Regions from separate parts of the Homo sapiens genome. Here region 1 is linked to region 2. Evidence: fine-mapped expression QTL. A gene starts in region 2. The other region holds a variant in brackets. All regions are shown on one strand. Distances are between the middles of the regions. Region 1 overlaps TMEM41B (transmembrane protein 41B). Region 2 holds the start of TMEM41B (transmembrane protein 41B).

Region 1 (16,168 bases), 27 kb after region 2:
GGCTTACTGCAGCCCCCACCTCCCAGTTCAAGCGATTCTCCTGCCTCAGGCTCCCAAGTAGTTGGGACTGTAGATGTATGCCACCATGCCCAGCTAATTTTTGTATTTTTAGTAGAGATGGGGTTTCACTGTGCTGCCCAGGCTGATCTTGAACTCCTGACCTCGTGATCCACCCATCTCGGCCTGCCAAAGTGCTGGGATTACAGGCCTAGGCCACTGCGCCCAGCCTATAAAAAATTTTGAAATTAGCAGAGCGGCCTGGCGCGGTGGCTCATGCCTGTAACCCCAGTACTTTGGGAGGCCAAGGTGGGCGGATCACGTGAGGTCAGGAGTTTGAGACCAGACTGGCTAACGTGGAGAAACCCCATCTCTACTAAAAATAAAAAAATTAGCTGGGCGTGGTGGCGGGCGCCCGTAGTCCCAGCTACTTGGGAGGCCGAGGCAGGAGAATGGCGTGAACCTGGGAGGCGGAGCTTGCAGTGGGCCGAGATCACGCCACTGCACTCCAACCTGGGCGACAGAGCAGGACTCTATCTAAAAAAAACAACAACTAGCAGAGCATAGTGGCACGTGCCTGCAGTCCCAGCTACTCAGTAGTCTGAGGTGGGAGGATCACTTGAACCTAGGAGATGGAGGTAATATTGAGCTATGATCGTGCCATTGCACTCCATCCAGCCTGGGTGACAGAGCATGGGAGCCTGCCTATAGAACAAACAAAAAAAAAGAAATGATCATAATATGCATGAAACACAAAGGTGATTATTCGAGGCTTTCCTAAGCAAGAAATCATTCAGTTCCAAACAAAGTGCCAAATATAGAGTAAAAGTACTGGAAAACTTGCAGTTTTTTGTGGACTTTGATCTGTGGTATTCAAGAAAATGTTTGAACTGTGAATTTGTTACATTTTTACTTAATTTTCATTGTAAATTATTATTTAGTTTATCATCAGGATTACCCAAAATGATGTTAAATGTTTTTAATTTACTAACATCAGTGGTTCTTTTTTTCTTTCTTTCTTTTTTTTTTTTTTTTTTTTGAGACGGAGTCTCTGTTGCCCAGGCTGGAGGCTCACTGCAGCCTCTGCCTCCCGGGTTCAAGTGATTGTCCTGCCCCAGCCTCCTGAGTAGCTGGGATTACAGGCATGCACCACCATGCCCAGCTAATTTTTGTATTTTTAGTAGAGACGGGGTTTCAACACGTTTGCCAGGCTGGTCTCGAACTCCTCATGTCAGGCGATCCACCCGCCTCGGCTTCCCAAAGTGCTGGGGTTACAGGCGTGAGCCACCATGTGCCTGGCCAGTGGTTCATTTCTTATATTCAAGTTAAAATTTGTTTCGATGTTGGAACAAATGCCTTTAACCCTTGGTTTGCGTCATCCAGAGCCTTCATATATAAATTACCTGTCTCTGATTCTGCTGAGACATTAAAAAGAAAAAATTGCCTGTCTCATGAAATTATATTAAAGCATTAAAAAATAATTTATAGCCGGGCATGGTGGCTTACTCCTGTAATCCCAGCACGTTGGGAGGCCAAGGCGGGTGGATCACCTAAGGTCAGGAATTTGAGACCAGCCTGGCCAACATGGTGAAACCCCGTCTCTACTAAAAATACAAAAATTAGTCAGGCATGGTGGGACGTGCCTGTAATCCCAGCTACTTGGGAGACTGAGGCAGGAAACTCACCTGAATCCAGGAGGTGGAGGTTGCACTGAGCCGAGATCGCGCCAATGCACTCCAGCCTGGGCAACAGAGTGAGACTGTGTCAAAAAAAATAATAAAAATAAAATGAAATTAATAATAATTTATAGGCCAGGTGCGGTTGCTCACTCCTGTAATCCCAGCACTTTGGGAGGCCGAGGCAGGAGGATCATTTGAGCACAGGAGTTTGAGACCAGCCTGGCAACATGGTGAAACTCCCTCTCTACTAAAAATACAAAAGTTAGCTGGGCATGGTGGTGCACGCCTGTGATCCCAGCTTCTCAGAAGGCTGAGGCAGGAGAATCGTTTGTACCTGGGAGGCAGAGATTGCCGTGAGCTGAGATTCCACCACTGCACTGCAGCCTGGGCAACAGAGCAAGACTCTATGTCTCAAAACAAAAGAAAAATTATAAACTTTTAAACTTAAACATTGCTAATTTAGACTTAATAGATCAAGGCATGAAATCATTTTGGATAAAACTTCATGTTGTGAACTTGACTTTGATATTATCTTGGCAAAATTCTGTTCTAAAATTTTTCACTTTATTTCTTCAGAGAAGAAAGAGTGAATATGAAGGTTCCCAGAGATATGGATGATGCCAAGGCTCTAGGAAAAGTTTTATCCAAATACAAGGACACCTTTTATGTTCAAGTACTTGTAGCTTATTTTGCTACATATATTTTGTATCCTTTTAACTGAAAAAATGTTTTCTAATTTTGTTCAAGAAAAAGTGTAAAAGGTCTGCTCTTCATTTATACATAACTATTTTCCTTTTAAAATTTGTTATTGCAGTGTGACAATATTAAATAATTGAAAAATTAAAATGGAAAAAAATTATCACTTTAATCCTATTTGCTGAACTAATTGTTTTTATGTCTGAATATTTATTAGAAGTTCTTTTGTATTCTGCTTTTTTCACTTACCAAACATTTTCCTTTATTGCATATTATTAAGATGTTTATTTTATGGGTTTGATTTATAATTGTATTCATTAACTGATGATACTAGTTTATATAATTATTTTGAATTAGTAGTCACCATAGTATTTTTATAATTGTTCTGTTAGGTTTGGAGGTATAATTTGTTGTTAATTTTTATAGATATGTATTATGAATCTCCTTTGTTCATGTTTTTTTCTTGCATTGTTTCTTTTGTAAAAATTCTTAAGATACTTATTCAAAGGAATGAATGTTTTTTACAATTTTTGATATATATTTTATAGAAATATATTACATTTTAACTAGTCAGGAAAATAGCTTTATTTCAAACTGCTTAGCTGTGGGTGCTTAATTTTGCATATTGTGGAGTTTAATTTTCATTTCTGATTTGTTAATATCTTTTATTCTTATCCAAACTGTTTTCCAGATCTTCTCAGTTAATGAAAGACGTAATTTACTTCTTGATGTTGTAAAAGTAATCATCCTTTTTAAACCAACTTTTTTTTTTTTTTTTTGAGATGGAGTTTTGCTCTTGTTACACAGGCTGGAGGCACAATCTCTGGTCACTGCAACCTCCACCTCCTAGGTTCAAGCGATTCTCCAGTCTCAGCCTCCCAAGTAGCTGGGATTGCAGGCGCCTGCCGCCATACTTGGTTAATTTTTGTATTTTCAGTAGAGACGGAGTTTCACCATGTTGGCCAGGGTCGTCTGGAACCCCTGACCTCAGGTGATCTGCCCATCTCAGCCTCCCAAAGTGCTGGGATTACAGGTGAGAGCCACTGTGCCCGGCTTTTTTTTTTTTTTTTTTTTTTTTTTTTTTTTTGAGACAGGTTCTCCCCCTGTCACCCAGGCTGGAGTGCAGTGGCATGATCATGGCTCACTGCAGCCTCAGCCTCCTGGGCTCAAGTGATCCTCCCACCTCAGCCTCCCGAGTAGCTGGAACCACAGGCACACCCAGTTAAATTTGGGATTTATTTGTAGATGCCAGGTTTTGCTATGTTGTCTGGGCTGGTGTTGAACTCCTGAGCTCCTCAGCCTCCCAAAGTGCTGGGATTTCAGTCATGAGCCGCCACGCCTGACAACACTGGGATATTATATAGCTATTTAAAAAGAATCAGAAGTAGCCAGGTATGGTGGCTCATGCCTGCAACACCAGCACTTTGGGAGCCCGAGGCGGGTGAATCACGTGAGGTCAGGGGTTCAGACCAGCCTGGCCAACATAGTGAAACGCCATCTTTACTAAAAATACAAAAATTAGCTGGGCGTGGTGATTGCATGCCTGTAATCCCAACTACTCAGGAGGCTGAGGCAGGAGGATCACCTGAACCCAGGAGGTGGAGGTTGCAGTGAGCTGAGATCGTGCCACTGCACTCCAGCCTTGGTGACAGCAAGATTCCATCCCCAAAAAATAAAAATAACAAAAATAAAAAGAATCAGAAGTATCCATATGTTGTTGAGGTATTAACTCACAATATACAGATAAGTGAAAGAACAAAGGGCAAAATAGTACACAAATATGCTGTGTTTTATCTAAGAAGGGGATAATATGAGTACACTCATATACATAAGTATCTTGTTATATTTTTCTTAAAAAACTAATTGGCCGGGTGTAGTGGCTCATTCCTGTAATCCCAGCACTTTGGGAGGCTTCAGCAGGAGGATTGCGTGAGGCCAGTGGTTCGAGACTGGCTTGGGCAATGTAGCTAGACCCAGTTTCTACGAGAAATACAAAAATTAGCTGGATGTCTTGGTACATGCCTGTAGTCCTAGCTACTTGGGAGGCTGAGGTGGGAAGATCACCTGAGCCCAGGGAAGTTGAGGCTACAGCGAAGCATTTAGCCTCTGCACTCCAGCCTAGGTGACAGTGAGACTGTATCTCAAATAAATAAACCAGTAAAAATGTTTACCTGTAGGGAGAGAGATAAAATGGTAGGACTGAAACTTTTCTTAGCGTAGGTTTGACTTGAGAACCAAGTAAATGTTTTACATAATTACAAAATCAAAATGAAAAAAGAGAATAGCAGGAATCTTAAGAATCAAAAGCAACCTCACACTCATTAGGATGGCTATCATGAAAATAACAAGTGTTGGCAAGGATGTGGAGAAATTGGAACTCTTGAGCACTGTTGGTGGGAATGCAAAATGATGCAGCTACTATGGAAAATAGTATGGCAGTTCCTCAAAAATTAAGAATAGTATTATCAGGGCCGGGTGTGGTGGCTCACACCTATAATCCCAGCACTTTGGGAGACCGAGGCAGGCTGATCACCTGAGTTTGGGAGTTCAAGACCAGCCTGACCAACATGAAGAAATCCCGTCTCTTCATGTATTTTTTTGTAGCGATGGGATTTCATCATGTTGCCCAGGCTGGTCTCGAACTGGAACTCTTGGGCTCAAGTGATCCTCCCACCTCAGCCTCCCAAGGTGCTGGGATTACAGGTGTGAGTCACCAGGCCTAGCCAAAAATCTTAAAACTGTTTTTAGTCATCATATTGTTAGTAGTAATAATGTTGTAAAATATTTAAATATGTGGAAACGTTTTAGATTATTAATACTAATGCATAGTATATATTTTATACATTTACTTTATGTTTCATAGTATATAAAGCACAAATAGGCAACTATGTTGGTGTTATCAAGAACCAAGATTTTTCAGTGTAAGAGAAGAGAAATCTAAACAAAGTTAAGCTCAAGTCACATTCCCATTTAAAAGGAAGCATAGTTTTGACTACTAGTATAAGATAAAGGATAGAACATAAACTACCCTAAGTATCCAATAGGCAAAATTCAATAAATGGTAAATTCTACAAATGATCTGGTTTCTTCAGTAAATTGAAAGAAAGAAAAAATAAAGACCCTATGCTTAAGTGATCCTTTGAGCAAATACTTTGTGTGGACTTCTAGATTCTGATCAGACTAGTCTTTAGGACAATAAGGAATTATAGTTAATTTCTTGAAGTCTGACAATGGTATCATATTTATGTTAAAAAGAAAAGGAGGCCAGGCACGGTGGCTAACACCTATAATTCCAGTACTTTGGGAGGCCGAGGCAGGTGGATCACGAGGTCTGGAGTTCAAGACCAACCTGACCAAGATGGTGAAACCCTGTCTCTACTAAAAATACAAAAATTAGCCAGTTATGGTGGCAGGCGTCTGTGATTCCAACTACTTGGGAGGCTGAGGCAGAGAATTGCTTGAACCTGGGATGCGGAGAATGCAGTGAGCTGAGATCACGCCACTGCCCTCCAGCCTGGACGACAGAGCGAGACTCCTACCACAAAAACGAAAGGAAAAAAAAAGGAATTGGCCGGGCGTGGTGGCCACACCTGTAATCCCAGCACTTTGGGAGGCCAAGCGGGGTGGATCACGAGATCGGGAGATGGAGACTATCCTGGCCAACATGGTGAAACCTGTCTGTACTAAAAATAAAAAAAATTAGCTGGGCGCGATGGCACACGCTTGTAATCCAAGCTACTCGGGAGGCTGAGGCAGGAGAATCGCTTGAACCTGGGAGGCAGGGGTTGCAGTGAGCCAAGATCATGCCACTGCACTCCAGCCTGGCGACAGAGCGAGACTCAGTCTCAAAAAAAAATTTATTTTTATTATTATTATAATTTTTTTGAGATGGGAGTCTCACTCTGTTTCCCAGGCTGGAGTGTAGCGACGCGATCTCGGCCCACTGCAACCTCCGCTGCCCGAGTTCAAGCAATTCTCCTGCTTCAGCTTGCCAAGTAGCTGAGATTACAGGCACCTGCCACTGCGCCCGGCTAATTTTTTGTATTCTTTGAACTCCTGACCTCATGATCCACCTGCCTTGGCCTCCCAAAGTGTTGGGATTTACAGGTATGAGCCACCGCGCCCAGCCTTATTTTTATTTTTATTTTTTTTGAGACAGAGTCTCACTCTATTTCCCAGGCCAGAGGTCAGTGGCATGATCTCGGCTCACTACAACGTCTGCCCTCTGGGTTCAAGAGATTCTCGTTTCCCAGCCTCCTGAGTACCTGGCATTACAGGCATGAGCCACTGTGACTGGCCAATTTTTGTATTTTTATTAAAGACAGGGTTTCATCGTGTTGGCCAGGCTGTTCTTCAACTCCTAGTCTCAAGTGATCCACCCTCAGCTGCCTAAAGTATTGGGATTACAGGCGGGAGCCACGGTGCCCAGCCTGAAATATGTTAATATAGGGCATCATAACACTAGTTTCTCTACTTTGTTTTTTTTTCCCCAATTTCAGCTGTAATTTTAGGTTTCCTTTTCAGAGAAGTAGGAATTGCACCAAATTTTGGGAAAGGAAAAAATACAGTTGCGTTAAACAACAAAAACAACAAAACACTTCCTGGGAACTTGTCCTCATTTATTTCTGCTTCTCTCAATTTCCTCAAGGGAAAATTTCCATTTATCTCCTTTCATCCTTTGGAGTCTTGCTTTCTTTTCTTTCTTTTTTTTTTTTATTATTATACTTTAAGTTCTGGGGTACATGTGCACAGCGTGCAGGTTTGTTACATACGTATATGTGTGCCACGTTGGTTTGCTGTACCCATCAACTTGTCATTTACATTGAGTATTTCTACATTTACATATGTGTGAAACTATCCATAATATGATGTTTTGTTTTGTTTTGTTTTTGAGATGGAGTCTTGCTCTGTTGCCAGGCTGGCTTGCAGTGGCGAGATCTCGGCTCACTGCAATCTCCTGCTTCCTGGGTTCAAGCGATTCCCCTGCCTTGGCTTCCCGAGTAGCTGGGACTACAGGTGCCCACCACCACGCCCGGCTAGTTTTTTGTATTTTAGTAGAGACGGTTTCACCATGTTGGCCAGGATGGTCTCGATCTCCTGACTTTGTGATCCGCCTGCCTCAGACTCCCTAAGTGCTGGGATTACAGGCATGAGCCACCCCACCCGGTCCATATAGTACAATCTTAACCCAAAAAGTGTGTGTGTTTGTGTGTGTGTGTGTGTGTGTGTTTTGTTTTTGACAGAGACATGTAGGAGACAGGTGGAAAATTTGAGGCTGATGAACCAAAGAGAATTTCGAGTTTTTAGTACTATATGTGGTTGATACTTGAAGCCATGGAAATTGCCAAATTTATCAAAGAAAAGGGATTGTGTGGCCAACAGAATGTTAGAGAAATTTCAAGAGTTGAGGGCAAAGAGAAAAATCTAGAGAAGAAATTACCTGTAATGTAGAAGAAAAAGTACAGTTCACTGAAGCCATGTTTCATGCAGGATGAAGTCTAATCCTATGCAGGGATCACTGAAAGGTGACTATTGAGAAAAAGTTATTATTGGCTGTGAGGAAGTTTCAATAGCATAGTGGAATAGTAAAGCAGGTCACAGGGAACGAGGAGAGAATCTCCTCTGAGGAAGTGAAGATGAGCGGTAGCTGGATAGGATACCCTGGTTGAGGTTGTTTTTTAAGTTATAGACAACTGAGTAGTTTTGTAGAGGAGGCATCCTGTGAAAGAGAACAGAGTTGAAGGTGAAAAAACCCAGGAGGAAGGAGGAGGAGATTGAAATGAGAACATGAGTAAAATGGGAACTAGAGAAAAAGGAATAGTTAATGAGTGAGGATAGATGGAGAGATGTTGAGGGAATTCACTTTGACTTGTGAGTAAATCATATTAGAGGGGAAAAAGGTTCAGATCCAAACTGGGAACGACAGGAAAGTAAAAAAAAAAAAAAATCTATTTTAAAAACAAGATTTGTGGCCCGGGTGTAGTCGCTCATATCTGTAACCTCAACACTTTGGGAGTCCATTGTGGGAGGATCGTTTGAGCCCAGGAGTTCAAGACTAGCCTGGGCAACTCAGCCAGACCTCATCTCTACAAATAATAAAAATTGGTGTGGTGACACACGTCCGTGATCCCAACTACTTGCAAGGCTGAAGTGGGAGAATTGCTTGAGCTTGGGCATTTGAGGCTGCAGTGAGCCATGAGTGCGCCACTGCGTTCCAGCCTGGGTGACAAAGCAAGACCCCTTCTCAAATAAGATTTGTGACTTTTACTATATTTTGTAATTTCTATTCTTATTTTTCTTATTTTCTTTTATTCTCTTGTAGTTCCTATTCCTTTAAAATGAGTAGTGAATTTAGGTAAACCTTCATAGTTAAATTAGAAATAATTGTATGTACATGATTTCCCTGAAAACATTTGGGAGTAAAATAAAATGTATTAGAGAAGCACTAAAAGATTACGGAAGACCTTTTCTTTTTTCTTTTGTTCCTCCCCCAAAGTGCCCGGTTCCTCTCTATCTAGAACATACGGTTTTTTGTCTTGGAAACCTTTTAGTAGCACACACTTACTAGTATTTATGATACTGTTTAGTAAATGGTCAACTTAGAGGCTAGACCTTTGGATATAATCTCATTGTATGATAATTTTTGTATTTATACTTTTTTCCTGAAATGTTACATTTGTCTTTTAAAATTCTACTTAATTATATTCTAATCC[T/C]TAACTTAAAAGTTACCAGCTTGCAAACATTTGCTATTCCAGGCTCTATATTTCTCAGTATACTCTCAGGGTTTCTTTATCCCTTTCCACTAGCCTTATTTCTTGTTTGTTTGGTAAGTATGAAAAAATAAAATTGGGAGACTGAAAAAACAATAGAATGATGAGGATGATGATGATACTTTAACCCTACTAGTCTATGTAAGCATAAACTCATTAATTGAAGAGGAGTTAATGTTAAAGTCCCTCCACAAGGAGGTGTTATAATTTGTTTTTCCCCCAGAACAGACCAATTATAGACTTAGTTGCATTTATAAGCTATGTTTTAGCTTTTCTTTCCTATTGGATTTTGTAACTGCGACAGTCCAAGGAGTGTTGGTGAGCACAATGAGTTAAGTCCCAGAGCCAGAGGTGGTGTTTTCAAGCTTAGGAACTGGGGGGGTCGGGGGTAGGGTCGGGGGGAGGTGGAAATTGGCTCCTGAAATTTTATTCTTAGGCTAAAGCCTAGCATTAATTATTTGGATATAGTCACTAGGTGTAATCACAAGTGCCAGTTTGTTTTAGCTGATCTCATTTGAGGTACATTTTGGTCTGAGAAAGTACTAGATCATCTCTGCACAAGAGATGTCATGCAGAGTACCCTCCCCACCTCTGAAAGAAGTAAATTAATTGAGCTTTTTACTCAGGTGAATAAATCAATGTGAGTAAGACGGAAAAATACAAAACGCTTATGGCTTCTTTTGTTTTCCAGTGTTCTGGACTTGGTGCCTCTTTCTGTTATATGCTTTCCTATTTAGTTGGGAGACCAGTTGTATACAAATACCTAACAGAGAAAGCAGTAAAATGGTCACAGCAGGTAAACATGTATTTTTAAATTATTTGATGTAACTCTTTGTTAATTGGAAGGTCTGTGTTTAGTCCCTACATGAATTAACTACATGTATTAACCCAACATAAATTAATTCCTAAGTTAACTCAAGTAATAAGAATTATCTTCTGACCAAATAAAAATGGGTGGTAGGCAAATATGAATGTTAATAATTTCAAATACAAATGTTTCAGACCTGTGATGGTAATTTTAATTCTTTATCTTAGTAAATTTAATCAGCAGAGAAGTCAGTGTGAATATAAAGGCATCCACATAATTAGATACCTATCTGTTTTATGTTAATGCAGTATTGTGTGCATCTGTTATGGAAACACTTGTATCAGCCAACTCCCAGTGCATTTTTTTCTTTTCTTTTTTTGAGACGGAGTCTTACTCTGTCACCCAGGCTGGAGTGCAGTGGCATGACCTCGGCTCACTGCAACCTCTGCCTCCTCGGTTCAAGCATTTCTCCTGCCTGCCTCAGCCTCCCAAGTAGCTGGGATTATAGGTACATGCCACCACGCCTGGCTAATTTTTTGTATTTTTAGTAGAGACAGGGTTTTACCATGTTGGCCAGGCTGGTCTCGAACTCCAGACCTCAGGTGACCCACCTGCCTCAACCTCCCAAAGTGCTGGGATTATAGGCATGAGTCACCACTGGCCTTTTTTGATGATTTCTTTTCTTTTTTGAGTCAGAGTTTCGCTCTTGTTGCCCAAGCTGAAGTGCAGTGGCGTGATCTTGGCTCATTGCAACCTCTGCCTCCCGGGTTCAAGCGATTCTCCTGCCTCAGCCTCCCAAGTAGCTAGGATTTCAGGCACATGCCACCATGCCCGGCTAATTTTTTGTATTTTTAGTAGAAACGGGTTTCACCATGTTAGCCAGGCTGTTCTCGAACTCCTGACCTCAGGTGATCCGCCTGCCTCAGCCTCCCAAAGTGCTGGGATTACAGGCATGAACCACCTCGCCAGCCTGATCATTTCTATTGGGTATACTCTGAAGTATCAGGAATGAGAATTTGAAATAAGGTGTTTATATTAAGCAACTTATTTTGAAGTTGTCCTCATCTGATGCTAATTCTTTTCTTTCTTATGACAGGTTGAACGTCATAGAGAACATCTCATTAACTACATTATATTTTTGAGAATAACACCATTTCTGCCTAATTGGTTTATTAATATCACATCTCCTGTGATAAACGTGCCATTGAAAGTTTTTTTTATTGGTACTTTTCTAGGTAAGCCCTCTGGTTCTTGCTGTGTATGAGCTCACTGTGTACATATCTAACAGTGTCCAGCTGGGCTAGATTACATGCATGCTCTCTGCAGATTATGCCAGCACCATCTAGAATTCTTGGGCACAAAGCCTGGCTGTATAAATAGATGCTCAGAAGTGTTTGTTGAATTGTGTTGATTTAGGTTATTTTTGTGTCGCCTCTTTAAAGAAGAACACTTTCTACTGTATATCGTTTTAATGATATAGGGTTAAGCAGGACTTCCAGTCCCTCTAAGTGGAGAGGAAAAAAAATCAAATTGCCTTTTTTGAGCAATTTTCTCCTATGTCCCTTCCCCTTCCTCTTCCCTGAGTCTCGATCTGTCGCCCAGGCTGGAGTACAGTGGCATGATCTCGGCTCACTGCAATCTCCGCCTCCCGGGTTCAAGCGATTCTCCTGCCTCAGCCTCCCAAGGAGCTGGTACTGCAGGCACACGCCACCACGTCTGGCTAATTTTTGTATTATTAGTAGAAATGGGGTTTCACCATGTTGGCCAGGCTGGTCTCGAATTCCTGTCCTCATGGTCCACCTACCTCAGCCTCCCAAAGTGCTGGGATTATAGGCGTGAGCCACCGCACCCAGCCCTTTCTTTTTTTTTTTTTTTTTGTAAATGTTGCTTTGGCAAAATAGCTCCTTTGTTTTCTAATCAAGTATTAAAATGTTGAACTTGAATTTTCAGTAGAGAATTGATCCTATTTTTCCTTTTACTGAAACCAGCTTTTATCGCGGATGTTATCAAAAGTATGGAAAAAGCAAGGATCAACAAACTTTCTTGCTTTTAAGGAAATAATACTTGATTTTGAAATTAATCAGTGGACATGAAAATTACTTACATATTTTGTGAATTCTCATGATTCTTTGTAGGAATGTTTTGCTCTTCTTTCCAGTTCGAGTTGAATTGTTTAGAAGTCAAAAATACGAGCAGATTTCTTACATATTGAATACCTATTAAAGCTTAAGTTAATACTTGTGAGAATATGTCTTTTTGAAAAGAATAACCAAAATCAATTATTTATTGCTACTTTAAAAAAAAATTAGCCGGGCGCGGTGGTTCACGCCTATAATCCCAGCACTTTGGTAGGCCAAGGCGGGTGGATCACAAGGTCAAGAGTTCGAGACCAGCCTGGCCAATATGGTAAAACCCTGTCTCTACTAAAAATTCAAAAATTAGCTGAATGTGGTGGCAGGTGCCTGTAGTCTCAGCTACTCAGGAGGCTGAGGCAGGAGAATCACTTGAACCCAGGAGGCAGAGGTTGCAGTGAACCGAGATTGTGCCACTGCACTCCGGCCTGGGCGACAGCAAGACACTGTCTCAAAAAAAAAAAAAAAAGAAAGAAGGAAAGAATGAAAAGAAAAGAAAAAAAAATGGACAAACTTACATCAGCATGGGGAATTTTTAATTTTGTTAAATGTCATATCCATGGAATCTAAAGAGAGAATTTTTGTTTCTATCTCCATTTTATAGGTGAAAGCCAGAGATTTAGTTAATTTCAGCTTTGGCCAAAGTAATTTATTTCCCTTTGTTTTGATTTTTAGTGAAATGTCATCATTCTCTATGTACTTTTGTATACACTGCTCTCTTTACTCACACTTTGAGTATCTTGACCTTGAAATTGCTAGAACAGAGCACGTTTCTTTCTTTTTTTTTCTCTTTTTGAGACAGATTCTCTCTCTGTCGCCCAGGCTGGAGTGCAGTGGCGTGATCTCAGCTCATTGCAACCTCCGCCTCCTGGGTTCAAGTGATTCTTTTGCCTCAGCCTCCCAAGTAGCTGGGATTACAGGTGTGCGCCAACACACCCAGCTAATTTTTGTATTTTTAGTAGAGATGGAGCTTCATCATGTTGGCCAGGCTGGTCTCAAACTCCTGACCTCAGGTGATCTGCCTGCCTTGGCCTCCCAGGGTGCTGGGATTACACGTATGAGCCACTGTGCCGGGCCTGTTTTTTTTTCTTTTAAGGTTTTTGATAGTCTGGGTGTGGTGGCTCACACTTGTAATCCCAGCACTTTGGGAGGCTGAGGCGTGTGAATTGCCTGAGCCTGGGAGTTACAGAGACCAGCCTGGGCAATATGGCAAAACCCCCTCTCTTGACAAAAAATTCAAAAATTTTGCCTGGGTGTGGTGGTACACGCCTGTAGTCCCAGCTGCTCAGAAAGCTGAGGTGGGACAATCACCTGAGCCTCGAGAGACTGAGGCTGCAATGAGTGATGATTGCACCACTGCACTCAAGCCTGTGCGATAGAGTCAAACTCTCGGGGGGAGAAAACAAAAGCATTTTTGATAAATGTAAAACTATTTTCTGGGCCCTTTTCTTGCGTTTTTAAAATTCATTATTCTGGCCAGGTGCAGGGGCTCATGCCTGTAATCCCAGCACTTTGGGAGGCTGAGGTGGGCGGATCATCTGAGGTCGGGAGTTTGAGACCATTCTGACCAACATGGAGAAACCCCATCTCTACTGAAAATACAAAATTAGCCGGGTGTGGTGGCACATGCCTGTAATCCCAGCTACTCGGGAGGCTGAGGCAGGAGAATTGTTTGAACCCGGGAGGCGGAGGTTGCAGTGAGCCAAGATCGCGCCATCGTGTTCCAGCGGGGGCAACAAGAGCGAAACTCCGTCTCAAAAAAAAAAAAAATCATTATCCTTAAGAGGTGATTAGGAAAGATTGAATTCTTTATATGGAAATAAACTTGAGCTTTAAATTCTTAATTTTTTTTCCAAAATGGAAATAGCTGTGTTGTTTTAAGAAACTTTATGCACACAGAACATTTTAATTTTTTAAAAACAATTGCGGTGGTTTTTACTGTATCTTTTTATATTTTATTTCAGGTGTCGCACCTCCTTCTTTTGTAGCCATTAAGGCAGGAACAACACTGTATCAACTTACAACAGCAGGAGAAGCTGTTTCCTGGAACTCAATATTTATTCTGATGATCTTGGCTGTTCTTTCTATTCTGCCAGCCATCTTCCAAAAAAAACTAAAGCAGAAATTTGAGTAAAAATAATCATCTGATTTTTAGTTTTGCTGTCATCACCATCTCAGGATTAACAGGTGCATCCATTTATGTTTTAAAATCACCTCTTCAGTAATTAAACAAGGAATTTGTAAAATAAAATTTCCTATCAGATAGTTAAAGTAATACATTTAAGTGACAAGGGGAGAAGAAAGTAAAAATGGAAATTGGTATACTGTGAAAAGTGCTATCAATAGTTAAGGTAGACATCTTAGACATCTTATAAATTATTATACCAAGGGTAGCTGTAGATAATAGTAGTGTGGTAGGAAATTGTTGATCCAGCTAATTCATTCAATTTAATTGAATATTTTTTATCTTTAATAACTAAAATAGATATTTTTAAATTCTAGATTTTTTAAAGTAGTGTTGCAGGTTTTGTTAATGTTAGGCTTTTTTCAGAGCATAAACTGGAAAACTTAAAAAGAGATTTACATTTTCTTCCTCTTTTTTTTTTTTTTTTTTTTTCTGTTTTGAGACGGAGTCTAGCTCTGCCGCCCAGGCTGGAGTGCAGTGGCGCGATCTCCACTCACTGCAAGCTCCACCTCCTGGGTTCACGCCATTCTCCTGTCTCAGCCTCCTGAGTAGCTGGGACTACAGGCGCCCGCCACCATGCCCAGCTAATTTTTTTGTATTTTTAGTAGAGACGGGGTTTCACCGTGTTAGCCAGGATGGTCTCGATCTCCTGACCTCGTGATCTGCCCGCCTTGGCCTCCCAAAGTGCTGGGATTACAGGCGTGAGCCACCGCGCCTGGCCCATTTTCTTCCTCTTTTGAGGTAATGGATTTGTTTGGAGATGGCATGTTAGTAGACGACTGAATATGGAAAGGATATCAAGTTATCTATTTTGTTAATTTTATTTTTGTTTTTTATCATCTAGATTTTTATCATGGATTAGTCTGAAATTTAAAGTTCTGGCCAGTCGGTTTTCTTTCATCTTGTAGTTTTTACAGTATTTCCACTGTGCATATGCAAAATGGGTATTACATAACTGTATCATATTTGGTATTGATAATTTTTTTTTTTTTTGAGACGGAGTCTTGCTGTTGCCCAGGCTGGAGTGGAGTGCGTGGTGTGATCTCGGCTCACTGCAAACTCCGCCTCCTGGGTTCAAGCGATTCTCCTGGCCCAGCCTCCTGAGTAGCTGGGATTACAGGTGTGTGCCACCGTGCCCAGCTAATTTTTGTGTTTTTAGTAGAGACGGGGTTTCACCATGTTGGCCGGGCTGGTCTTGAACTCCTGACCTCAGGCTATATGCCCACTTCCACCTCCCAAAGTGCTGGGATTACAGGCATGAGCCACTGTGCCCAGCCTGGTATTGATAATTTATATTCAGATAATTTGTTATGGCTCTTTAATATCCCACAAGGGGCTCTAAAAAGCAAACATTCAAGAGTATGTAGTTTTTAGACATTAAGTTAATTATTTTAAACAGTGACAGCAAAACACAAGTGATTAAATATAGTTTATTTGTTCCAATGACTAAATTTTACCTCATTTATTAATCTGGTCATTAAGGAATATATTTAATAATATTATGTAATTATTCTTTTTATGCATGATACACCTAGAAAAATGCCTTTTGTTTCTATTGATGGCTTTGTTGTTTGGAGCTACTTTTGATTACTTATTGCAGTTTCCCAATTTAGTCTTTACTTTATCTAACTCACAAAGTAAAATTAACTGATCACATGGCAACTACTGTATTTAAATAGTTCTGGAAAAATGAAAGTGCTTTTTGCTGCTTGGTAAATGGGTAATGCCCTTGATTCCTTGACTGTAGGACATAGCTGATCTAAAGTACTCTGTCAGTTTTACCTTCACCCATGACTGTTATTAGTTGTCAAAGTTGAAAAGTACTTTAGCTGTGAGAAATCCTTGTATGTTTTTATTATAAGAGGTATAATCATCCTCAAAGCCTGTTTTTATTACATGAT
Region 2 (16,168 bases):
GAGCCACCATGCCCGGCCAATTTTTGTGTTTTTAGTAGAGACATGGTTTCACCATGTTGGCCAGGATGGTCTCGATCTCTTGACTTCCTGATCTGCCCGCCTCGGCCTCCTAAAATGCTGGGATTACAGGCGTGAGCCACCGTGCCCGGCCTAATTTTTGTGTTATTAGTAGAGACAGGGTTTCACCATGTTGGCCAGGCTGGTCTCGAACTCCTGACCACAGATGATCCACCCGCCTTGGCCTTCCAAAGTGCTGGGATTACAGGCATGAGCCACCAGGCCTGGCCATGTAAGTGTTTTCAACATCAGACTTTGTTTTAATCTCTGCTGAGCAACAGACTCATATTTAATGCTGTAGTGTTTATAGGCATTTGGAAAGCTTTCATGTATTTCAAAGGCCTTCATTGTACAAAAACATGTTGAGAAAGGCACTGTCCTGAATCACCAAAGGGCGCTTATAGTTTGGTGGCAGATAAGAAGTCATTAAAATATAATTAGATAATTACAAAAATAGTGGCAATCCAGGAGAGAATGTACCTATCAGGACAAGAGTTGTGGCAATCCAGGAGAGAATGTACCTATCAGGACAAGAGTTGACCTTAAGTCAACTCTTCAAAGATAAGCAGTAGTTGATCTTAGGAAACACTAAGCAGAAAACATTAAAGGCAGGCTGGGTGCGGTGGCTCACACCTGTAATCCCAGCACTTTCGGAGGCTGAGGTGGGCAGATCACGAGGTTAGAAGATCGAGACCATCCTGGCTAACACGGTGAAACCCCGTCTCTACTAAAAGTACAAAAAATTAGCTGGGCGTGGTGGCAGGCACCTGTAGTCCCAGCTACTCAGGAGGCTGAGGGAGGAGAATGGTGTGAACCTGGGAGGCAGAGCTTGCAGTGCGCTGAGATCGCACCACTGCACTCCAGCCTGGGCGACAGTGCAAGACTCTGTCTCAAAAAAAAAAAAAGACATTAAAGGCAAAGAGTTAACTCCTGCAAGGACACAGAAACACAAATGAGTATGACATGTTCAGGGTACTTACTACATGTGGTTCAAAATTGTTTCACTCATTCATTCATTTGTTCATTCATGTTGGATTCAAAGTCAGCTGGATCATTTGAGGTTATGTCAGATCATGAAGGGCTTCAAGATTATTATTATTATTATTATTATTATTATTATTATTATTATTTTCTTTTTTGAGACAGAGTCTTGCTGTTGCCTAGGCTGGAGTGCAGTGGCATGATCTCGGCTCACTGCAACCTTCTCCTCCTGGGCTCAAGCAATTCTCCCGCCTCAGCCTCCTGAGTAGCTGGGATTACAGGTATGTGCCATCACAACCAGCTAATTTTTGTATTTTTGTAGAGATGGCGTTTCACCCTGTTGGCCAGTCTGGTCTTGAAGTCCTGACTTCAGGCAATCCACCCGCCTTGGCCTCCCAAAGTGCTGGGATTACAGGTGTGAGCCACTGCACCCGGCCCAAGATTATTTCTTGGAGACCGCTCTAGCAACAATATGGAAAACTGATTAGAGGTGAATAAGAAGAGAAATCATGATATCTAAATAAAGAAAGAGTAAGGAGGCTGGGCACTGTGGCTCACACCTGTAATTCCAGCACTTTGGGAGGCTGAGGCGGGTGGATCACCTGAGGTCAGGAGTTTGAGATCAGCCTGGCCAACTGGTGAAACCCCGTCTCTACTAAAAATACAAAAAATTAGCCGGGCGTGGTGGCGGGCGCCTGTAATCCCAGCTACTTGGGAGGCTGAGGCAGGCAGGAGAATTGCTTGAACCCGGGAGGTAGAGGTTGCAGTGAGCCGAGATCATGCCACTGCACTCCAGCCTGGGGGACAGAGTGAGACTCTGTAAATAAACAAACAAACAAACAAATAAAGAGTAAGGAGTTGGAGACCTGCCTGGACCTGGCATTTGAATGGATGGGGGTGTGAATATGTCGACCTAAAAGGAAGAGGCTGAGGCACAAAATATAAAGAGTTTACTTGAGCCCAAGTGAGGACAGCTGCCCAGAAGACTCAGACACAAGTAACCTTGGAGATGAGCTCCATCCAGGCTTTGTTACAAGTAGGGTTTTGTTTAAGGTAAAAGAGGGGGACAGGGAGCAGTCTGATGCAAAATTGTTTGTCAGGAATTCTCATTGGTTTACACACATAACATTGATTAGTGATTGGCTATACATTGTTAAACTACAGTGTGCGGATTATTTGTGTCCAGTGCATCATTTTTAGGTTACTTTATAGCTACTTGTGGCAATTGCAGGCAGTTTCAGGAGAAGAATACATAGCTTGTAAGGGAGGAGTAGGACATGATTGGGGTCTCATTTGAATGTCTTTCTGGGCCTGACAGTTTAAAGGACTTGCATTTCTCAGATAAAAGTTTTTCTTTTCTCAAAGGACAAGAAGGAATTCATTCATTCATTTCACAAGTTGAATTTAACAAATGTTAAATGAGAATTCTTAGATTTGCCTGAGCAAAAGGGGAGCTCGTGGTGTCATCTGCAACGTCTGTGAATACAGGGAGTGGATAAAGTTTGAGAGGTAATATATTCATTTCAGATTTGGATATGCTGAATTTGAGATGTTCGTGGTACACCCTGGCGTAAATGTGTATTAAGTTCTATGTATATCATTCTGGCATTTAAGATAAACATTTGTCATCTGTGTATAATACGCGGTTGTTGAAGTCATGACCTAGATGTTGCCTAGAAAGAGTCATAGGTGAGGCCGGGCGTGGTGGCTCACGCCTGTAATCCCAGCGCTTTGGGAGGCTGAGGCGGGCGGATCATGAGGTCAGGAGTTCGAGACCAGCCTGGCCAACATAGTGAAACCCCATCGCTACTAAAAATACAGAAATTAGCCAGGCGTGGTGGCACGGGTCTGTAGTCCCAGCTACTTGGGAGGCTGAGACGGGAGAACTGCTTGAAACCGGGAAGCAGTGGTTGCAGTGAGCCAAGATGGTGCCAACATACTCCAGCCTGGGCCACAGAACGAGACTCTGCCTCAAAAATAATAATAATAAAATAACCAAAAGCAGTGGACATGGTGGCGCACGCCTGTAGTCCCAGCTACTCTGGGAGGCTGAGGTGGGAGAATCGCTTGAACCCGGAAGTTCAAGTGAGCTGAGATCGCCCCACTGCACTCCAGCCTCGGCGACAGAGTGAGACTCTGTCTCAAAAAAAAAAAAAAAAAAAGAAAGAAAGAGTCATAGGCTCTTTTTTTTCTTTTCTTTTTCTTTTTTCTTTTTTTTTTTGGATGGAGTTTAGCTCTTATTTCCCAGGCTGGAGTGCAATGGTGCGATCTGGGCTCACCACAATCTCTGCCTCCCAGGTTCAAGCGATTCTCCTGCTTCAGCCTCCCGAGTAGCTGGGATTACAGTCGTGCACCACTACACCCAGCTAATTTTTTATTTTTAGTAGAGACAGGGCTTCACCATGTTGGCCAGGCTGGTCTTGAACTCCTGACCTCAAGCAATCCACCCGCCTCGGCCTCCCAAAGTGCTGGGATTACAGGCGTGAGCCACTAAGCCTTGCAATGAGAGTCATTGACTCTTATCGCATGGCAGAGTGGATACCCTGGGGGAAATATTGGCCTTTAAGCAGTAGGGAAAAGAAGAGTTTCCTTCAAGTGTTTAGAGAACTATCATGGAAACCATGAAGGATGGAACAGTTAATGGATTAAGCAATGCAGAGGAGAAATAACTAGAAACTAACTGAAGGCAACAAAAATAAGCTCATTGGTTACCATAATAAGAGAAGTTTTAGCTGAGAAAAGGTGGCAGGAGTCAGGAAGTAAGAATAGAAAGTATCCGAGAGGCCAGGTGTGGTATTGGCTCATCCCTGTAATCCCAGCTACTTGGGAGGCTGAGGCGGAAAAATTGCTGAGTCCAGGAGTTCAAGACCATCACAACAAAATTTAACAACTTTTCCTTTAATCCAACTCCTCTTCCTGTGGTCTCTTACCGCCGTTATTCCTAGTGAGACAGGAATAATACAGGCTGGTGGCAGAAGAATAGAAAATGTTGGCTGGGCTGGGCGTGGTGGCTCACGCCTGTAATCCCAGAATTTTGGGAGGCCGAGGCGGGCAGATCACTTGAGGTCAGGAGTTCGAGACCAACCTGGCCAACATGGTGAAACCTCATCTCTACTAAAAACACAAAAATTAGCCAGGTGTGGTGGCATTCACCTATTGTCCCAGCTACTTGGGAGGTTGAGGCAGGAGAATCGCTTGAGCCCGGGAGGCAGAGGGTGCAGTGAGCTGAGATCGCACCACTGTACTCCAGCCTGGGCAACAAAGCAAGACTCTGTCAAGAAAAAAAAAAACCCACAACAAAAACAATAAAACATAATCACACACCCACCAACCCCCTGACGGTTCCAGGAACAAATTTGGTATAAAAATGGGTGGCACCACATTTCTGAAAAATCCAGGAATTTTTCCAGGAATCTTCATGAATATCCCACCCTTTGGTTAAAGAAACCCAGAAAGGTAGAAATCCCAAACTCTATTGGGCGACTACTCTTTGAGTACACCTGCGCTCCCCTTTCTTCAGTGTGTACTTTTCACCTTGCAATAAGTCTCCGTACTTTCACTATTTTCTGACTCATCCTTGAATTCCTTCCTGCAATATCTAGAGCCTACACACTGGCTGGGGTTGTGGTCCCACTGGTATCACATTCAACCTCCTAAACCAGAAACTCTCCAAACACCTAGTGCCTCCCCTCTGACTAACATCTTTGTCTAAGGATATTAAGTGACACTAAATCCTCTAGATTCTACTTCTTTAACATTTTTTAATATCCCAGGAGGATAAATCCCAATATTACAATTATCTATGGATGGTGGTATTGTTACAGAAGGTAGCTAATCAGACATGAGAGGGCAGGAGAGGGCCTCTCCACTTCACCAGGAATGTCAGGTGACCATCAGTTGTTGGTCAGGTGGCCATTAAACTGCCTTCCTAAAACAATAATTGGTCGCAGCTGGCACCAGGGAAAGGCAGTCTCCCAACAAATAGAAAAAACCCTGAAACTGATGATTGGCAGCTTCTCGGTAACATCTCCGGCTCAAGTATGCACACTAAGAAGCAAAATGGCAGAATTTAAGTTGTGTATGACCTTCCTCTAGGAACACTGGACTGGTAAAGGAAAAACTGCCTCATGTGAGCATGTGTGCTATGGGGAAAAGAGAGATCAGATTGTTACTGTGTCTGCGTAGAAAGAAGTAGACATAAGAGACTCCATTTTGTTCTGTACTAAGAAAAATTCTTCTGCCTTGAGATGCTGTTAATCTGTAACCCTACCCCCAACCCTGTGCTCCCTAAGACATGTGCTGTGTCAACTCAGGGTTTAGTGGATCAAGGGCTGTGCAGGGTGTGCTTTGTTAAACAAATGCTTGAAGGCAGCATGCTTGTTAAGAGTCATCACCACTCCCTAATCTCAAGTACCCAGAGACACAATACCTCTGCCTAGGAAAACCAGATATTGTCCAAGGTTTCTCCCCATGTGATAGTCTGAAATACGGCCTCATGGGAAGGGAAAGACCTGATCGTCCCCCAGCCCGACACCCGTAAAGGGTCTGTGCTGAGGAGGATTAGTAAAAGAGGAAGGAACGCCTCTTTGCAGTTGAGATAAGAGGAAGGCTTCTGTCTCCTGCTGGTCCCTGGGCAATGGAATGTCTCGGTGTAAAGCCGATTGTATATTCCATCTACTGAGATAGGGGAAAACCACCTTAGGGCTGGAGTCGGGACATGCTGGCAGCAATACTGCTCCTTAAGGCATTGAAATGTTTATGTATATGCACATCAAAAGCACAGCACTTTTTTCTTTAGCTTGTTTATGATGCAGAGACATTTGTTCACGTGTTTACCTTCTGACCTTCTCTCCACTATTATCCTATTATCCTGCCACACCCGATAATGATCAATAAATACTAAGGGAACTCAGAGGCTGGTGCCGGCGTGGATCCTCCACATGCTGAACGCCAGTCCCCTGGGCCCCTTTTTCTTTCTCTATACTTGGTCTCTGTGTCTCTTTCTTTTCCAAGTCTCTCGTTCCACCTAATGAGAAATGCCCACAGGTGTGGAGGGGCAACCCACCCCTTCATGTGCAACTTCAGTAAAGACATTGTGCATGTAACCCCTCCCAAGTGCTGGCAGGCCACTGCACATGTGGACAGCCCATCCCAAGGGAAGAATCAGGGGAGAAATAACCCTGGGCCAATGTATAAGACCCCAAGTAAAGGTCAAACCGTGCACTTGATCTCTTAAGTCACCTGTTGGTCCTCTTCCAAGTGTACTTTGCTTCTTTTTATTCCTTCTCTAAAGCTTTTTAATAAACTTTCACTCCTCTAAGACTTGCCTTGGTTTCTCACTCTGCCTTATGCCCTTCGGTCGAATTCTTCTGAGGAAGCAAGAATTGAGGTTGCTACAGACCCGTACGGATTTGCTGCTGCTAACATATTAGACATGATTTTAATGTTTTTGTTTTTTCGAGGCAGGGTCTGGCTCTGTCACCCAGGCTACAGTGCGATGGCATGATCTTGGCCCACTGCAACCTCCACCTCCTGGGCTCAAGCCATTCTCCCACCTCAGCCTCCTGAGTAGGTGGGATTGCAGGCACCTGCCACCATGCCCGGCTTTTTTGTATTGTTTGTAGAGACAGGGTTTCACCATGTTGCTTAGGCTGGTCTCAAACCCCTGAGCCCAATCAATCCGCCCTCCTCAGCCTCCGAAAGTGCTGGGATCACAGGCATGACCCACCCTGCCTGGACTTAATGTTTTTCTGTCTGATAATTTGCTTTTTCAATATTTGTCTGGAGGCTGGGGCGTGGTGGCTCACGGCTGTAATCCCAGCACTGGGAGGCCGAGGTGGGCAGATCACCTGAGGTCGGGAGTTCGAGACCAGCCTGATCAACATGGAGAAACCCCCCTCTACTAAAAATACAAAATTAGCCGGGCGTGGTAGCACATGTCTGTAATCCCAGCTACTTGGGAGGCTGAGGCAGGAAAATCGCTTGAACTGGGAGGCGGAGGTTTCCGCGAGCCAAGATCATGCCATTGCACTCCAGCGTGGCAATAAGAGTGAAACTCCATCTCAAAAAAAAAAAAAATTTTGTCTGGAATGACTATGTATATATTCATGTAATTAAAGTAATAAAAGTTTAGAGATAGTTCTTCTCATACATAATCTTATATCTGGTATCTTCTTTTTGTCTCCAGTACACTATGCTAGGTCAGGCCAGGATTATTGCAGTAATCTCCTAACTTCTCTTTCTGCTGTTGATTTGGCACACTTCCATAAGGCGGTCAGAATAAGCTTTGAAAATTCAAATCTTTTTTTTGAGACGGAGTTTCACACTTGTTGCCCTGGCTGGAGTGCAATGGCACGATCCCAGCTCACTGGAACCTCTACCTCCCTGGTTCAAGCGATTCTCCTACCTCAGCCTCCCGGGTAGCTGGGATTACAGGCGCCCGCTGCCACGCCCAGCTTTTTTTTTTTTTTTTTTTTTTTTTTTTTTTTTTTTGAGATGGAGTCCTGCTCTGTCACCCAGGCTGGAGTGCAGTGTCGCGATCTCGGCTCAGTGCAAGCTCTGCCTCCTGGGTTCACACCATTCTCCTGCCTCAGCCTCCTGAGTAGCTGGGATTACAGGCGCCTGCCACCACGCCCGGATAATTCTTTGTATTTTTAGTAGAGACGGGGTTTCACCATATTAGCCAGGATGGTCTTGATCTCCCCACCTCGTGATCCGCCCACCTCGGCCTCCCAAAGTGCTGGGATTACAGGCGTGAGCCACCACACCCGGCCACACCCAGCTAATTTTTTGTACTTTTAGTAGAGACGGGTTTTCAAACTGGTCTTGAACTCCTGACCTCAGGTGATCCAACCATCTCAGCCTCCCAAAGTGCTGGGATTACAGGGGTGAGCCAATGTGCCCGGCCAAAAATACAAATCTTACTAAGTCCCTCTCTGGTTAAATATCTTTGAGGATTAAGTTCAAACTTTTAGCAGTTTGTGATAAGGTCCTGGTCTCATATCTTTCGTAGCATTTCTTTCCATTCTCCCACCCTTTGCTTGAAGCTTTTTTTCTAATATAAGCAGTAGCTTCTAGCCTTTGCAAAAGCTATTTTCTCTGCTTTCAACTTTGTTAATTCCTATTCATCCTCTAAAAATCAGTTTTAATCCTGCTTCCTGGGAGACTTTACAGCCCCACTGTAATTTAGATATTCCTCTCTTCTGCTATTGCAATCTGCGCACCCCTCAGTCACTCTTATCACACTGCACTGAGGTTGTTCATCTTTTCCTAATTTTTTGGAATTTCCTAAGTTTTGGAGTTGGCTTTCCCACTGCGCACTCAGATGTCTTAAGCACATTTAATTTTTTCTTCTGTGTGTTGATAATTCATATTCTTTGCCCATTTTTCTGTTGAGTTGTGCTTTCCTTACTGATTTGTAGTAATTCTTATGTGTCAAATACTTCTCAGTGTTTGTTTTTAGTTTTTGTTGTACTTCAATTTTTAATGTTTGCATAGTAAAATATATAAAATGTTTTCTTTTTTTTTTTTTTGACTTGAACTCCCGACCTCAAGGTGATCCGCCCACCTTGGTCTCCCAAAGTGCTGAAATTACAGGTGTAAGCCATGGCACCTGGCCCATAAATATAATTTCCTAAGATTGAAAATTTATTCGGCTGGGCACCATCTCAAAAAAAAAAATTATTCAACAAATTCATTGAATGGCCACTTAGGTATTGGCACTCTGTCAGCTACCGGGGATACAATGGTGATCAAAAAGACAAAGCCCAGCTGGGAGCCATAGCATGGAGCCTGTAGTCCCAGCTACTCAGAGGGCTGATGCTTGAGGATCCCTTGAGTCCAGAAGTTCAGATCCAGCCTGGACAATATAGTGAGATTCCCATCACTTAAAAAAACAAAAAACAAAAAGACAAAGCCCCTGCCTTAAAGCTTATATTCTAAAGGTGGAGGCAGACAATAAACAAGTAAACAAATAGTTCACAGAATTAATTGCTTTTAATGACTATGAAGGAAATAAAATGGGAGCCAGAAGTAGGCAAAGGATGTGTACATAAAACAGTTCAATTGAATGGGTTTCCCATAATTTACTTAACCATTTTTATTTAGTGTTGGATTTTTATATTGCTTTTAGTTTTTCACTGTTATACTAATACAGAGGAATTATTTATGTTTATTTTCATGGAATAATTTCCTACAAATGTAATTACTGAATAGAAACAATCAGGATTTTTTTTTTTTTTTTTTGGGACGGAGTCTTGCTTTGTGGTCTATGCTGGAGTGCAGCGGTGCAATTTCTCACCGCAACCTCAGCCTCCGGGGTTCAAGCGATTCTCCTGACTCACACTCTCGAGTAGCTGGGATTACAAGCCATCATGTCCAGCTCATTTTTGTATTTTTAGCAGAGACGGGGTCTCATCTCACCATTTTGGCCAGTCTGGCCTCACACTCCTGGTCTCAAATGATCCGCCCGCCTTGGCCTCCCAAAGTGTTGGGATTACAGGCTTGAGCCACCGCGACCGGCCTCTAAGTTGCTTTCAAGAGGTAACCACGGTGAGTAAGCTGAATGTGCTCTGAGGGGTAGAAGCAGAAAAAGTTACCTGTGGAAAAGGCATGTTTCCGCTTAGCTTAGGGATAAGCTAAATGTAGAGCTGACTTGGGTTTAGTAGTAAGGGGCAGCAGCTAATGCAAAACCGTTAGCTTTGGGAACAGGACAACCTGGATTCTAAGCCCATTTTTGCCATCCTGTGATCTTCACAGGTTGTACGTAGCCCTCTCTGAGCCTTAGTTTCCTGAAATTCAGGTAGGTTTTGCTCAACCTTTGTATTTCCCACCATCTTTTAGATCAAGCACTCTCTGGCGCCTCCAAATTGAAGACAGCAGCTGCGGAATTGATGTAATGGGCTGAATCAGCCTCAGCCGCGAAATGCCGACTAATCACAGGCACCTCCGGCGGCCTGGACAAAAGGTTTGAAGTCCCTGGGACCGCACTTCCGGGTAATTAAGGCTACGCTTTAGACGCCAGGGCCAGCGAGTCGCAGCCGGGTGACTCGAGTGCCGCGACTGCGCATGCTCTCGCCCCAGCGCCCGGCGGCCACCTCTTTCCCGCGGGCGGGCCGGGGCGGGGCACTGAAGGGGGCGGTCCAGGACCCTGACTTGTCTCGCGGTTACTGGGCCGGCGCGAGCACGCGAGGCTCGGGGGCGGCACGGGGCGGGGTTTAGCCTGTGGTGGGCGCTGCGGGTGTTTGCAGGAGGTTGCAGTACTCGCTGGGCTGAGGTCGTCTCGGGTGAGGAGGTCGCGCCGGAAGTGGCTCTAGCCGTGGCGCTTCGGCGTAGTAAGGAGCCTGCAACAGAGTTTTGTTGTTTAGGGGGCGCGGCACCGCACCGCTCCCTTCACCTTGCAGCAGCCATGGCGAAAGGCAGAGTCGCCGAACGATCGCAGTTGGGCGCTCACCACACGACCCCCGTGGGGGACGGGGCAGCGGGGACGCGGGGTCTCGCGGCGCCTGGCAGCAGAGACCACCAGAAGGGTGAGTGGGCCCGGGGAGCAGAGCTGGGGGTGGCCCGAGGCTTCTGTGTGTCGGGTGGGGAAAAGGACCCCCGCTATTCTCGGAGAGTCGCGGGGAAAGAGGGGGGCCTGCTGGCGCCGCGGCGGGAGCAGAGACCGTGGGGGAGTTGGGCTTGGGCGCTCGCGCAGCACAAGGCCGGACGCCGAGTAGGTGCGTTGTAAATGCTGTTTGAGTAGAATTCATTTAAAAGAAGGGATGACACTGGCTTGTTGACGCTCAGGTAGATTGTAAGGTTGATGATAACGACGCTAGGCAGAGCTGGAAGGAGCTGTACTGTGGCATTCGCTGCGTTGTTTTTACAGATGAAGAAACTGAGGCCCAGTGTGGGTATATGACTTATAAAGTCATAAAGCCAGATCAGTGAAGTAGTAGTTAGGAGCGAGGACTTAATACTTCCAGGTGGCAGTACACCTGGGCTTGAGTCCCTGCCCTACTGTTTACTTGGAACCTTGGACTTGGTAACTTTCAAAAAAAGCTCAGTGTCTGAACTGTGAAATGGGGATAATAATAATATCTACTTAATAGGTGGTGCGTGGGTTAAACGAAATAATTCACGTAAAAGATTTAGAGCAATGCTTGGATATGAAGTGGGGGCTAAATAAATATTAGCAATTACTTAGTTACAGCTAAGGTCACTCATTCTAAAGTTTATTTCCCCACTACATCATCCTGACATTTCTCACGGCTTTATTTTTGGTTTTTGTTTTCTCTTTATTCCTACTGCCTCTATAATTGCAGAATCTCACGGCTTTAAATATTGTTTTAAGGAAAAAACTGTACGTAGAAACTAAATACTTTGATTCCGTGTTGGCCTGGAATCGTTCTTTAAATGATTTTAAAGCTCATAAACTTAAAGTGATCCTAACAAGTTTGTCTGTAGCTCACATAGGTGTGTTCCACCACCAGTGATGGCTAGGAGAACTTCTAAGAGTATGTAGTAGAAAATGTTAATGTATTTTCAAATAATTTAAAATGTCTCCAACAGTCTAATTTGGCTCTGTCAGCCTTATGTTTTTGGGTATTTTTCCAGCTTATATACACTGGATCCAGGTGACTTCATATAATTTCAAAAACTGAGAAATGAATCGTTGTTAATGTATAAATCAGCTCTGAATAAAAGAAAGATTGTTTTGAAGACTCTACTACTGAGGGTGACAATATTCCAAGGTCTGGGTTTCCTGAAAAAGTGTTCCAGATAGGGCATCCCTAAAAATTGACATCTCATTTGAGGTAGCAGCCAGTTGTATTCATGATTTTTACCTAAAGCTATTCAAAAAATAAAACCTTGAAACTTCCAAAGTGCTCTTACTTTTTAATCTTATTTTATCATTACAACAAAACATTCAACACAATTATTCTTTTTTTTTTTTTTTTTTTTGAGACGGAGTCTCGGTCTGTCACCCAGGCTGGAGTGCAGTGGCGCAATCTTGGCTCACTGCAAGCTCCGCCTCCTGGGTTCACGCCATTCTCCTGCCTCAGCCTCCCGAGTAGCTGGGACTACAGGCGCCCACCACCACGCCGGGCTAATTTTTGTATTTTTAGTAGAGATGGGGTTTCACCTTGTTAGCCAGGATGGTCTCGATCTCCTGACCTGTTGATCCGCCCGCCTCGGCCTCCCAAAGTGCTGGGATTACAGGCGTGAGCCACCACGCCTGGCCTACAATTATTCTTATGATGCTGTCCCATGACATCTATAGATCACAAATCTATAGGAAGACAGGGAAGAGATGTGAAGGCGTGCCTTCACTTCATGATGAAGTAAGGCCTGTTTTTAGTGACTTGAGACAAGGCCTCGCTGTGTCACCTATGCTGGAGTGCAGTGGCATGATCATAGCTTGCTGCAGCCTCAGCTACCTGGGCTCATGCGATCTTCCCACCTCAGCCCCCTCAAATAGCTGACTACAGGTGTGTGCCACCATGCTCAGCTAATTATTTGTTTTTTGTAGAGAAGGGGCCAGGGTGTCTTGAAGTCCTGGGCTCAAGCGTCTTCCTGCCTTGGCCTCCCCAAATGCTGGAATTACAGGCATGAGCCATTGTGCTTTGCCAGATAAGTAAGGTTTGGATAAGTAAAGAGAAGGGAAGGGTATTCCAGGCTAGGAGAAAGAGAGTAGTAGGGTTGAAGGTTAGTGTGAAACTTTTATGTGTGTGGGTAGGGAGATTAATTTGTCAGGAGCAGAGGGTTTCTGTTGGGTGGTAGTAGGCGATGAGGTTGGCCTGTTCAGGATGTGTCAGAATGTTCCTGTAAATTCCATGATACTTGGAAATGAATTTGTATTCTATTAAGTGACACATATATAACTTTGACAAATAAGTAGTTATCATCATATGTATGTTTGAACTGTTTTACATGCTATCTGCAATGTTTGGTACATTTAGTGGATTCCTTGCCATTACTCTGGCCTCTAGTCTCAGAGCTAAGCCTAGTAGACTGTGGACCACTTTGACTACTTGAGTAAGGCAGAGGTAACACGGAAAGTCTAATTTTTGCATGATGAAGATGAGAGAGCAGACAGGAGGTGAAACTAGTTAAGAAGCTCTTGAGAATGCATCAAGCCCAGGCAGCAGTGGAAAGGCTGGAGGACACACCTAAACATGTGGAATCCCAGTGCCAGGCAGCCAGGGCCAAATCCATATCCACCCAACATTGGGTGCCCTGGAGGTTCCAATCCTGCCCACTCACCACCTATCAACCCACCCTTTCCCCCAGGCCCCTGTCCTCCTCCCCCAGGAGCTCCGCAAGGCAATTCAGCTTTCCCCCCAGGTTGGCCCCCTCATCCTGTGCCACAGCCAGGGTATCCAGGATGCCAATCCTCGGGTCCCTACCCTCCTCCATACCCACCGTCTGCTCCTGGAATGCCTCCTGTGAGTCCCTTGGCTCCTGGCATGGTTGGACCAGCAGTGATAGTGGGCAAGAAGATACAGAAGAAAATGAAGAAAGCTCATAAAAAGATGCACAAGCATAGCAAGCATTCCTCCTCCTCTTCCAGCAGTGATTCTGACTGAATACAGGCCCTGGGTCCTTCCCTCAAGTCTCACCAGTTCTGCTCTCCTATCAAGCTTCAGATGCCATGTTGTATTGGGGGAAAGTAGCCCTTGTGCTCCCCACACCCTACCCCCGCCTGAGCTTCACCCTGCTGTTGAGCCCTGAGTGGCTAGGGAAAATGGGAAGAGAATTGGCATGGCCTGGCCATCTTGTTGTTGCTTGGATAGATCATATAGCTAATGAGTTTAGCAGGGGAGCTGTTTTTTGAAGATGATGAACTAAATGTTGAAGACAAGTTTGAGATCTGTAAAATGTGATTTTTTACTTCTGCTTATAATACTCATGATTGGGGAGGATTGTGGAAATTTAATTATGATGAAAAACCTCTATCTTTTTTGTAATGTTGGCATACTTGGGGAATTTAGTGGAAAATACATTCCCCAGCAGGCCTTTTGTTGGTTGCACTAACTGCAAGGTTGCTGGGAAGTAGAGTCTGTTTGGTCGATGAGCTTTGACTGCCATTTTGGAACCTTACCTCTCCTCCTTAGCCCAGTATGCTATCTCAGGTCCTATTCTTGTTCTCCAGCTCTCAGTCCAAATAAAGTTATTTCTCCTGGTTAAAAAAAAAAAAAAAAAAAAAAAAGGGCTCTTAACCTAATCGGTTTGAAGGTGACTGGACTAGAGTACATAACTTTTTTGGTGGTGTTTGCCCCGACCTATGTATTTACTAGCAAGTTCTCCATTTTAACTTAAGAGAGCTGGACTATGTTTTTCAATATATAAGTCATGACCCTTGTGAGGGGTGTGAAATCAATTTGATGGATAATCAATAATAAGCATTTTTTTAAAAAAAATGGAATAGAAGAGAAAATATCAGTGCTTTGGGATTAAATGCTGGTTTTTTTTTGTTTAATCTTTCCTTGAGTTATATAGATTTTGTGTATACCGGGTCATGTACATTACTTAGGCTGACATGGTGGCTCATGCCTGTAATCCCAGCACTTTGGGAGGCCGAGGCGGGCGGAACATGAGGTCAGGAGTTCAAGACCAGCCTGACTAACATGAAGAAGCCCTGTCTCTACTAAAAATACAAAAATTAGCTGGGCATGGTGGTGCACACCTGTAATCCCAGCTACTTGGGAGGCTGAGGCAGGAGAATCACTTGAACCCAGGAGGTGGAGTTTGCAGTGAGCCAAGATAGCGCCACTGCACTCCAGTCTGGGTGATAGAGTGAGACTCCATCTCAAAAAAAAATAATAATAATAATAATACATTACTTGGAACACAATCAAAAAAGATTGAAAAACACTGTCTCAAAGTTGATTTTATTGCTTCTAGAAAACAATATTTTTTTTTGTTCTTTTGTTTTTTTTTTTGAGATGGAGTCTTGCTCTGTCACCCAGGCTGGAGTGCAGTGGTGCGATCTTGGCTCACTTGCAACCTCCCCTTCCCGGGTTCACGCCATTCTCCTGCCTCAGCCTCCCAAGTAGCTGGGACTACAGGCACCCACCACCACGCCTGGCTAATTTTTTGTATTTTTAGTAGAGATGGGGTTTCACCATGTTAGCCAGGATGGTCTCGATCTCCTGACCTTGTGATCTGCCTGCCTCAGCCTCCCAAAGTGCTGGGATTACAGGTGTAAGCCACTGCGCCTGGCTGACAATATTGTTCTGACTTGGATAATCCAGATCCCTGGTCTAGATCCTGCCTTGCTATTTGTTTAACAAATACTCCTCAGGTGTCTACTATGAGCAAAGTACTGGCTTACAGAAAGAAGGAAGCTCTGATTACTGTAGATGAAATCTAAGACTAGACTTGGCAGCTGAATATCAACCAAAGCATTAGTATGGTTTGCTGATGTCAGTCTCAACCCAGGTATTATGTATCAGAATTTTTTTGGTCTACGACAGAAAACCCACTGGAACCCTTGCTGAAAGGGAGCTTATTGGTCCATGTAAGTAAATCAAGTAATGAGTAGGATTTGGTGGCATCAGGCTGGAGCCAGTTGCTCAGCATCTTCAGGATCAGATTTTTCTTTCTTTCTTTTTTTTTGAAATGGAGTTTCACTCTTTTTGCCCAGGCTGGAGTGCAATGGTGCGATCTTGGCTCACCACAACCTCCACCTCCCAGATTCAAGCGATTCTCCGCCTCAGCCTCCCCAGTAGCCGGGATTACAGGCACACGTCACCACGCCCAGCTAATTTTGTATTTTTAGTAGAGACGGGTTATCTCTGTGTTGGCCAGGCTGGTCTTGAACTCCTGACCTCCAGTAATTCACCCGCCTTGGCCTCCCAAAGTGCTGGGATTATAGGTGTTAGCCCCACGCCCGGCCAGGATCAGATTTTTCATATCTTGATTTGCTTATTTGATGTCAGCTTAACCTTAAGTTTGGTTCCCCTTGAAGCTTCAGGTAAGCTAAATGCTTCCATGTTAATTTTGAGAATCTTTGTCCTAGTATTACGGATGAAGTCTTGCTATTCACTGATTAGATTGCCTCAGATCAGATGCTTTTTCCTGAACCTATCATTATTGTCAGTAGGTCATCAGAGTAACCTGATTGGCTCAGCCTGATTCATATTCT

Evidence for each region. PIP is the estimated chance that this variant, and not a neighbour inherited with it, causes the effect.
Region 1: its variant is fine-mapped to the expression of TMEM41B in whole blood (TOPMed, PIP above 0.99).

What each region holds. Positions count from the first base shown.
Region 1 is chr11:9,281,472-9,297,639 of GRCh38, reverse strand. TMEM41B (transmembrane protein 41B) reads left to right here. Exons shown (of 7, transcript NM_015012.4): 3 at 2,253-2,381; 4 at 9,105-9,198; 5 at 9,834-9,938; 6 at 11,047-11,185; 7 at 14,047-16,168. The coding sequence ends at 14,216. Among named protein-coding and RNA genes, the nearest start is that of TRL-CAA5-1, 14 kb to the right of the region's middle. The variant T/C (reference allele first, on the strand shown) is at 9,086.
Region 2 is chr11:9,308,718-9,324,885 of GRCh38, reverse strand. TMEM41B (transmembrane protein 41B) reads left to right here and starts at 10,293. Exons shown (of 7, transcript NM_015012.4): 1 at 10,293-10,565. The coding sequence starts at 10,445. It also overlaps the pseudogene PRR13P2. RefSeq lists enhancers at 4,486-5,462, 5,463-6,439, 10,069-10,584, 10,585-11,102 and a silencer at 9,954-10,303.